Linked DNA regions of Homo sapiens: region 2 is linked to region 1. Evidence: fine-mapped expression QTL. A gene starts in region 1. The other region holds a variant in brackets. All regions are shown on one strand. Distances are between the middles of the regions. Region 1 holds the start of TBC1D1 (TBC1 domain family member 1). Region 2 overlaps TBC1D1 (TBC1 domain family member 1).

The links.
Region 2: its variant is fine-mapped to the expression of TBC1D1 in monocytes after Pam3CSK4 (Quach 2016, PIP 0.95).

The regions. Positions count from the first base shown.
Region 1 is chr4:37,889,143-37,893,524 of GRCh38, forward strand. It overlaps TBC1D1 (TBC1 domain family member 1), which reads left to right and starts at 1,942. Exons shown (of 22, transcript NM_001396959.1): 1 at 1,942-2,206. RefSeq lists silencers at 1,461-1,650, 1,971-2,470, 3,500-3,549 and enhancers at 3,250-3,379, 3,810-4,089.
Region 2 is chr4:37,975,716-37,980,097 of GRCh38, forward strand. All of the region lies in intron 2 of TBC1D1 (TBC1 domain family member 1), which reads left to right. Among named protein-coding and RNA genes, the nearest start is that of PTTG2, 18 kb to the left of the region's middle. RefSeq lists silencers at 1,474-1,543, 1,614-1,733, 1,854-1,903, 1,924-2,223. The variant C/T (reference allele first, on the strand shown) is at 2,176.

The DNA.
Region 1 (4,382 bases):
TAAAGGGCTTTGGATCTTGGAGATTCCAGCACCCACTAACCCTGTAGGCACTAACCTCTTACTTTTCTCCTTAGTCAAATGGATTTAACAATCTTTGCCCTGCAGAGTTTTTGAGCAAATTAGCAACAATATATAAGGACAGTATCTAGCACAATACCCCAAATCGACTAACTCCTCCGTAAAGAATAGCTACCACTATTGTGAGAGTTTTAAGTCAAGCTGTGAATAAAACTCTTGGGTCCACTTAAAAATACCTCCCCTGGATGTAAGCATCCAGGGAAATCAGGGAATGCCATAAGACAGCCCTAATCTAAAAGCCTACAAGAAGCTCAGTGGGCTTCAAGGAAGACACTGCTCTTGGTACGATGAGGAAACCTGGCCCTCTATTTGCCTCCTGGGCCACAGTAATATTGATAATAGCTGCTGCTTTTAGTTGAGGACCATGTACGTCTGTGTCACTGCACTGGCCACTTTACTTACACTTTCCTGCTTTGTCCTCACAAAGATCCTGTAAGGTGTGTATTGGTCCCATTTAGCAGGTAAGACAATGAAGACCAGAGGTCCAGCACCTTGCCTAAACCACACCTGCTGGGATTTGGATTCAAGTCCAACCGTACAGCTCAAACGCTCAGCCACTTCCCTAAAGTCCACCCCCAGCTACATTAAGTAAAAAAATCCAGAAAGATGCCACCTGGGGGTCTGGAACTGCCTCCTCCGAGCACCCGGCTCTCCCCTCCCTGCGGACTCTTCTCTGGAGAGGATGTGATGCTTCTTACTTTTCTCAGATCCCTCTCCCCACCCTGCGAGTGACGTTGCGCCTCTGTGCCTGGTGGGATAGGGATCTGGGAGCTTCGCCTGTTTTTTGCACACTGCCATCCCCTAGTCTTAGGGAGCGAGCTCTGTCCCGCTTTTCACATCTCCGCGTCTTTCCTTGCACTCTACATCACCGCTGGGAATGTCCCCAGACCTGATCGGGGCATGCACACTGGGGTGTGCGTGTGCGTGTGGTGTGTGTTCCTGCGCGTGTGCCGGGCTCGCGGGGCAGGAAAAAGCGCCTAATCCAGGCTCTGCGTCACTCCCGCAATTGGTTAGAAATGGAGTTTCCTGGTGTTTAATCCCGGGAGGGCACTTCGCCTTCGTTGTTTCCCAGAGTCCCTGATTTTCCTGCCTCGCATGCCAGCGCCCCATAGGGCATCCGTGCCTCAGTTCACCTCTTGCCATCCTCCAAGGACGGGGAGAAGGGGTAAGGCGGGGGAGAGCAAGGTGGCTTGGTCGCCCCCGGCCCCCGCCCCCCATGTTGTGTGCAGTTTCCACCACGTCTGTTTCGGAGGGAGAAGAGGAGGGTGCAGATGAGGCGAGGCGCCTTCGGGAGCGCGGAGAGCGGGCAGGCAGTGCCACCTGCTGAGAGCCACTCAGGCCGAGCAAGCGGCGGGCAGTGCCACCTGCTATAAATAGGCCGCCAAGGACAGGGTGTGCGACTGTACATCCCGCCACGAGGGCCTGCATCACGCGCGGGGCCCCGCGCCCCCGGCTCCCCAGGGAAACGCTGTGCCCAGATCCTGCGCAGGGGTCTGGATGGGGCGGCGGCCCGAGTACTTCCCCCCTATTCCCCCCACAGACACTGGCTGAGGATGGCCCGCGGGCTTGGGGGCGGGGGGTGGCAAGGAGGGGAGGGAGGCCGCGGCGGACCCGCAGTGCAGCAGCTGTTGCTCGCGTGTGACTCGCCCGTCCGGGCCGTGCTGCCCAGGCACAGTCACACGGCGCAGTGGGGAGGAGGAGGACACCGAGTCCCCCTCCCAGCTCCCCGGGGACCGAGTGGGGAGATCCCGGCTCCTGTCTTCCCCTCGCCTCCAGCGCGCTCGCCCAGGCTGGGAGGAGGAAACCAGAGCCGCGCGCAGACACCTCCTCCTTCTCCTCCTCTTCTTCCTCCTCCTCCTCCTCCTCCTCTTCGGCTGCTGCTCCTGGTGCCGCCACCGTCCGCCGGTGCCTGTTGCTGCCGCCGCCGCGGGACCTGCTGTGTCCTCAGCTGGGTGGAGAAGAGGCGGGCGCCGAGCCGAGGGGAGCCCCCTCCCCGTCCCCCCGCGGCGGGAAGAGCGCAGCCAGCCGGGTGCGATGGACTCCCCGCCCGCCCAGGCCGTCCCCAGGATGCCCCCAAGCACCTGCGCGTCCCGGCCCGGCCCCGGGCTCTGAGCGCGCCGCGGCACAGGTAAGGCGCTTCCTGGGGCTTCGTCCTGGCCACCCTGCTGGCTCCTCTCGGGGCGTCGCGGCCGCCCCCTCCCGCAGCACGCCCCTGCCCCGCCTGGCCGCGGAGGGGAAGGCATCTGGCCGCCCACGGACGCGAGGCCAGGGTCTCTCGGGGGAGGAAGTTCATTGCCATCTCGTTGCCCCCCTTACCCCCCCACCCCCGCCGCCCTTGGACGAAAGCGAAACCTTAATGTTGCTAGCGACCCGAGAGCTCCGCCGGCTTCTCCCCCAACCCCCGCCAGCTCACTGGTCCGCGCATCTCTCCCCTCCCCCCTCCCGCCAATTATCCTAGCGTGTTTGCAAGGCGACCAGATTGGAAAGAGTGTGGTCAGAGTGACCCCAAGCCACGCTTTAAAAGTTCAGGGTACTTTGCAGTAGTAACTTTGGCAGCTCCACCAGTGCGCGCAACATTTCTTTCTATGGGTACATCCTGTACCAGTCATTTTGAAACCCTGCTTCATTGTTTCTAGCCGCTTCCTGATGGCTCTGTGATTATGAGACCCCCCTCAAACTTCACCAGGCATTAAGGTTTTGTTTTTGCTTTTTTTTCAGAGAGGTATCATTTCGTTTGAAATCCACCTAGATGTGGCTTTTCCTGTTTTGATTTTACTTAACATAGCTTATTCTCTGGAAGTTGCTTTAAAAAGAAATTGAAAGTGATGGTTGTTCCTTCCACCAAACAGTTTAATTTTCAGGGTGCCTCATATTAATGGATATGTTTTCCCTTCATAGATTTCTCATTGTTTCCCTTATGATGGGATGATTTCATTTATTAATAAAATCAGACTTTGAAAGAGCATTTAAAAATGACCTGGTTTAAATAGGTCACACCCAAGAAACTCAGCTATCTGTACAAGTTCAAACTTCTAAACTTTTTCAATGAGCTAGGGGTGGTGGCACCCACCTGTAGTCCCAGCTACTTGGGAGGCTGAGGCAGGAGGATCACTTGAGCCCAGGAGTTCGAGGCCATAGTGAGCTATGACTGTGCCACCTCACTGGAGCCTGGGTGACAAAGTGAGATCCCATCTCTTAAAAAAAAAGAGTTTAGGGGACATTTTCTGAAGTGAACACAAGTAGAGCATTCTAACACTATTGAGTGCAAGGAGACCTGGAAGGGACTAAGTGGTTCAAAGCAGGAAATAAAATCATCAGGTGATAATTAAAATAATTTCTTTCCTGTGGATTTGTCCAGCCATTTGCAAACCAGGAGAATAGGAAAAAAAATCACTAGTGTAGTTATAAATTATTACATTACGTTTTCAAAGGAAAATTTTGCAAATGCGTCTCCTTGTCATAGTCTATTGTTATCTACCCCACTGAGAGTGCTGGGGCTTCCCCTTTTCACCACGACAGCATTTCTGGTTGGGTGGCAGTCATGCAGTGTTGACCTGGTGTCCCATAAGGCACAGTTTGTCAAAACACTAGTGGGTATTAGGAGGAAACGTGCAACTCTGAAGCAACAGAGCTTGCCCCTTCTTCCTCATTATCCAGCTGGTGATAATCCCTGTCCCCCACTTCCCTAGAAGACAGCTTTGACCAGGAAGGCTGCAATGACAATGAGATGTACCCCTATGCAGAGCCAGATGTGGGCGGGTGGCTTTTTTGTGGTCCAGATCTTCTAGGATCTTCTAGGATGTAACCCTGGCAAGCAGTGGGGAGCCTGAATCAAGCAGCATGGCTGTTACCTCTTCTGTGTTCACAGCAGCATCTTCAGTTGTCTTGGTGCCTGGAGCAGGCACCACAGCTGCCTGCTCTGTTGGCCACCAGCTTTCTAGAGTAGATGGTAGGGAGGAGAGCAAGGGGCTCAAGAGGATTCTGTCTTTGAACATGCTTTTAATTTGATCTGACAGAATGGCAGCTCCCTGAAGTCCTTCCTACTCTCTCCACAGCATTTCTCTGTAGGTCCCCAGTTTTTGCTCTTTTCAGATTCCCAGAGGACTGAAAATGTATCACGGCCCATTTGGGGACTTCCTGTATATGTGTGGGTGCCTCAGGATCATTTGTTTTGCCCTTTTCCAGTCTACCGTGCTGCCCTTCTCAAGTTTAATGACCACGTTAGTTTCAATATTTTATATATTTCTCAGCAGTTTTCATCTCTTGGTCATTAAACTTGAGAAGTAAAATCTGCTCATTAAAAT
Region 2 (4,382 bases), 87 kb after region 1:
CAGCTCCTATCTCTGTATGGCCTGGTTTTTCCTAGGTTATGATTGTAGAGCGAGGATTATTATAATATTGGAATAAAGAATAATTGCTACAAACTAATGATTAATGATATTCATATATAATCATATCTAAGATCTATATCTAGTATAACTATTCTTATTTTATATATTTTATTATACTGGAACAGCTCGTGCCCTGGGTCTCTTGCCTTGGCAGCTGGGTGGCTTGCCGCCCACAATCCCCCATGATCCTCTCCTTTTGATATTCATGTCCTTATATTATCTCCTCCCCTTAAGTGTGGACTAGACTTATGTCTTTGGTTTTTCACAAACAGTAATAGAGCAAAAGTGTTGGGATGTCACATCTTAATTCATAAAACACTGTTTTTGGATTTGTGCATTCTCTTGGATCACTTGTGCTGGGGGATACAAACTGCCATTTTCTGATCAGTGCTATGGAAAGAAACAGCAAGAAACAGAGGCCCTGAGTCCAGCAGCTTGCGAGGAACTAAATACGGGCAACACCTATGTGAATGAGCATGGAAGTGGATCCTTCAGTCCCAGGCCAGTCTTGAGATGACTCCAGCCTCAGTTAACAGCTTGGCTGAAATTTTAGGGCGACTTTCAGCCAGAGCCATCCAGCTAAGATGCTCCTGGATTTCTGACCCACAGAAGTTGTTTGTGGTTTTAAGCTTCTCAGTTTTGGGGTAACTTTTTATACAGCAATAGGTAGCTAATACCCTCACTAAACTCAGATGCCAGATATTTAGGGAACAACATTAAAATGTCCCAATGGTCCTTCAAGAAGATAATGCACAATTAGTAGAAGGAAAAGAGAAGCAGAATTCTTGGGCTGGGTTGGCCATTTGGCCTGAGGAACTCAGTGAGTGGTTCCACCTGACACATGCATAACACATCAGCGATTAAACCTTTGGACTTTTTTTTTTTTCAACGTGGAACTCAGGAGTGGCTGGGATTGAAACTCAGCTTTACCTTTGTAGCCATAAACTGACCACCTTGTCTCATCATCTTGCCTTGGGAGAGAAGAAAACTATGGTGAAATCAACATTTCTCAAGTTGCTAAAGCCTCCTGGCAGGCAGGAGCTAAATGGTTCTTTTTCCTCTGCCCCACTTTTGGTCTCAATGGCCGAGTTTCCTGACTCCAAGAAAACCACCTTTGATTATATAAAGGTATTAGGGGCTGGGGAACACTGGTCTTTTGTTACTAGCAATCTAAAGCGCTTAGGAAGAAAAGCCCTGGGGGTGGGGGTCACCCCTGGAAAGTTGGGCGGGCTTTGTGTTAGCTCCAACTCTGGGGCTTTTGTGGAACCTCGGAGAGGGAGGAATTCTTAGATTTCTGAAAGTTGTGCGAAACGGACCCCAGAGGCCTGGAAAGGCGCGTCCCCAGCCTCCAGGGTTTCCTGCGCAGCCCTGGGCATCTCGGAAGGGGGCGACCCCAGCATGTCCCAACTTCCCGCCAGCAGCGGAGCGCGGGGGTGGGCGGGGTCGGCTGCGCGCCCTCCCCTCCTCTCCCCTCCTCCCCCCGCCCACCCCCTCCCCGCGCTCTCCCCTCCCACTTCCCTTTCTCTGCCTGGCCGCCCCGCGGGCGCGACCTCTCGGGGCAGTGACGAACTGGGTGGAGCCCGCCGCCGCCGCCGCCGCCGCCGGGGAGAGCGATGCCCCGGCCCCGCCGCTCCCCAAGCCCGCCCCCGGCCGCCCGCGGGCCCACGGGCCGGCGGCGGGAGTGAGCGGGAGCCGGCGGGCGAAGAGCCGCCGCCCGGCCCGCGATGTCACCATTGTTCAGCTGGGTGGCCAAGGTAGGCGGCGTCGGGCGGGCGCCCGTTACCGGAGCGGAGCGGCAGGCGCGGGGCTGGAACATTTGTAACCTTCGGGCCGGGGCTGGGCCGGGCCGCTGGAGGCCAGGCGCGGCGGGGGGCGAGCGGCGGGCGCGACCAGGTCGTTAGCCGCGCGTTTCTCATTCATTAGTCTCCCAGATCCCTGTGGGGAGGACGGGCGAGGTAGCGGCGCCCATTTCACAGTTGGGGAGACTGAGGCTGTACTCGGGGACCCCTGCGGGAGCCCGAACCCAGCAGGCGGCTCCTCCGGCCCCTGTCGCTCCCCGCGCCGCGGAGCTGCCGCTCGGTGCCTCCCCGGCGCGGGACCTCGCGGAAGTCGACC[C/T]CGCGTGTCTCCCTCGCGGGTGTCGCCCTCGTGTGTCTCCCTCGCAGAAGTCGGCTTGCGCTGGGCCGCCTGGACAGGGCGCCGAGGATGCCCAGAGGCTGGTGCCCACAAGGGGCGTCTGTCTTTCGTTTTTAACCCTCTGGTTTCAAAGGGCATGTTCTGAGGTCTGAGTTTTAAATAGAAGTTTTTAACTTTCCATTCCCACAAAGTTTTATTTTCAGAACATCAGCGCCTTCGAGATAACTGGGTGGTGCAAATCCAGGCCAGTTGCACTGTTGCTAACAGGAAGGCATAAGTGTAGATTTCCCGAGTTCCCACCAGTTCGAGAACACAGTAATAGCATCAATAGCATTCTTTTTATCCACTCCTGCAGTGCCAGGTGTCTGAATGTGTTTTAAAGGATGCGACCCTCGCCACCTTGAAAGGCTCGCTGGTCGTTAGGGCATCTTGCTGTCACCCCATGCACTCAGTCCCTTGGCCGGCGCCTTCCCAGGGCTTGTTTCCTGTGTATGGCTGGTTGAGTAATAAGCTCACAACTCGTTAGCCATACTGTGAGGCTTTACCAATTAATAATTTAATTAGGTGGTGGTTATGTCTTGAGTTATCATGCAATGCTTTTATAGTCTTATTTAATTACATTTTTATGAATACCTGTTTGTGAGCAGGTATGGCTTTGCCTGTGATTTAAGTGATACAAAATTGGAGACACAGAAACTAGATAACACTAGTTTTTAGATGGGCAAAAGTTTTTAGGTAGATTTTCTTACTAGGTAAATAACATTCCATTAGAATCACTTCCTGAAACATAGCTGGTGGTAAAATGAGATGACTTTCAAAAACGTTTTGAGTCATTAAAAAGTCATTTCAAAAACCATCACAGACTTTTAGGACGATTGTTAGCCTTCTCCGAGTGTCAGTACGTTGGAAAAGTTTATATAGAGGAAATGTAGGCTGGTAGCTTAATTTGGATTCTGAATCTTGTTATTTCAAAATTATTATTTTTGAGACAGAGTCTTACTCTTGTCACCTAGGCTGGAGTGCAGTGGTGCGATCTCAGTTCACTGCAACCCCCACCTACCAGGTTCAAGCGATTCTTGTGTCTCAGCCTCCCCAGTAGCTGGGATTACAGCTGTGCGCCACCACTCCCAGCTAATTTTTGTATTTTCAGTAGAGATGGGGTTTTGTCATATTGGCCCGGCAGGTCTCGAACTCCTGGGCTGAAGTAATGCCCCCACCTTGGCCTCCCAAAGTGCTGGGGTTACAGATGTGAGCCACCACACCCGCCCTCAAAATTATTATTTCGATTACAGGACAACAGCGGAAAAACTATTAAATGTTTTTGGAGCAAATTCATGTATACCTCTTAGCATACATTTTTAAAATGTGGTTATTTTATATTTCATTTCCTGTAGGTGGTGCATGCATTACAAATTATATCCCGAAATTGAATGATTTTTATAGATAACGTGTTATCCTGTGAAAGATTTTAGAATACGAAATTAGTCTTTGGAAGTTTATTTCTTGGAGTTATAGATTGTAAGAATGATGTTCTATGGAACTGATGTGGTTTACGGTGAAGAGGCAAGTCATTAACACACTTTACATTACAAACTAGGTAATATCCTAAAGACAAAGACAAAAGGCATAGATAATGTACACAATGTGAATAATCTTGAAGTTGTTATATTTGACTTCAGAATGCCCCTTCAGAAACACACAGCTGCACATGAGCACAGGCCTCACACAAACACCTGCACATCCAGTTACGCAGCTGACTTTCCTTTTCCTTTTTCATTTTGACCTTTGCAACTGCAGCTGAACACCTGGTGGGGAAGGAGAAGGGGTGGGTGTCGGTTGATTCACATGGATACCTGAGCACGAATGTGTTTTTCTTTTTTTTTGTTTTGAGACAGAGCTTCGCTCTTGTTGTCCAGGCTGGAGTGCAATGGCACAATCTTGGCTCACTGCAACCTCTGGCTCCTGGGTTCAAGTGATTCTCCTGCCTCAGCCTCCCGAGTAGCTGGGATTACAGGCTTGCGCCACCACCCCCGCTAATTTTGTATTTTTAAATAGAGACAGGGTTTCTCCATGTTGGTCAGGCTGGTCTTGAAGTCCCGACCTCAGGTGATCCACCTGCCTCGGCCTCCCAAAGTGCTGGGATTACAGGTGTGAGCCACCGCCCCCGGCCAAGCATGAATGTGTTTTTC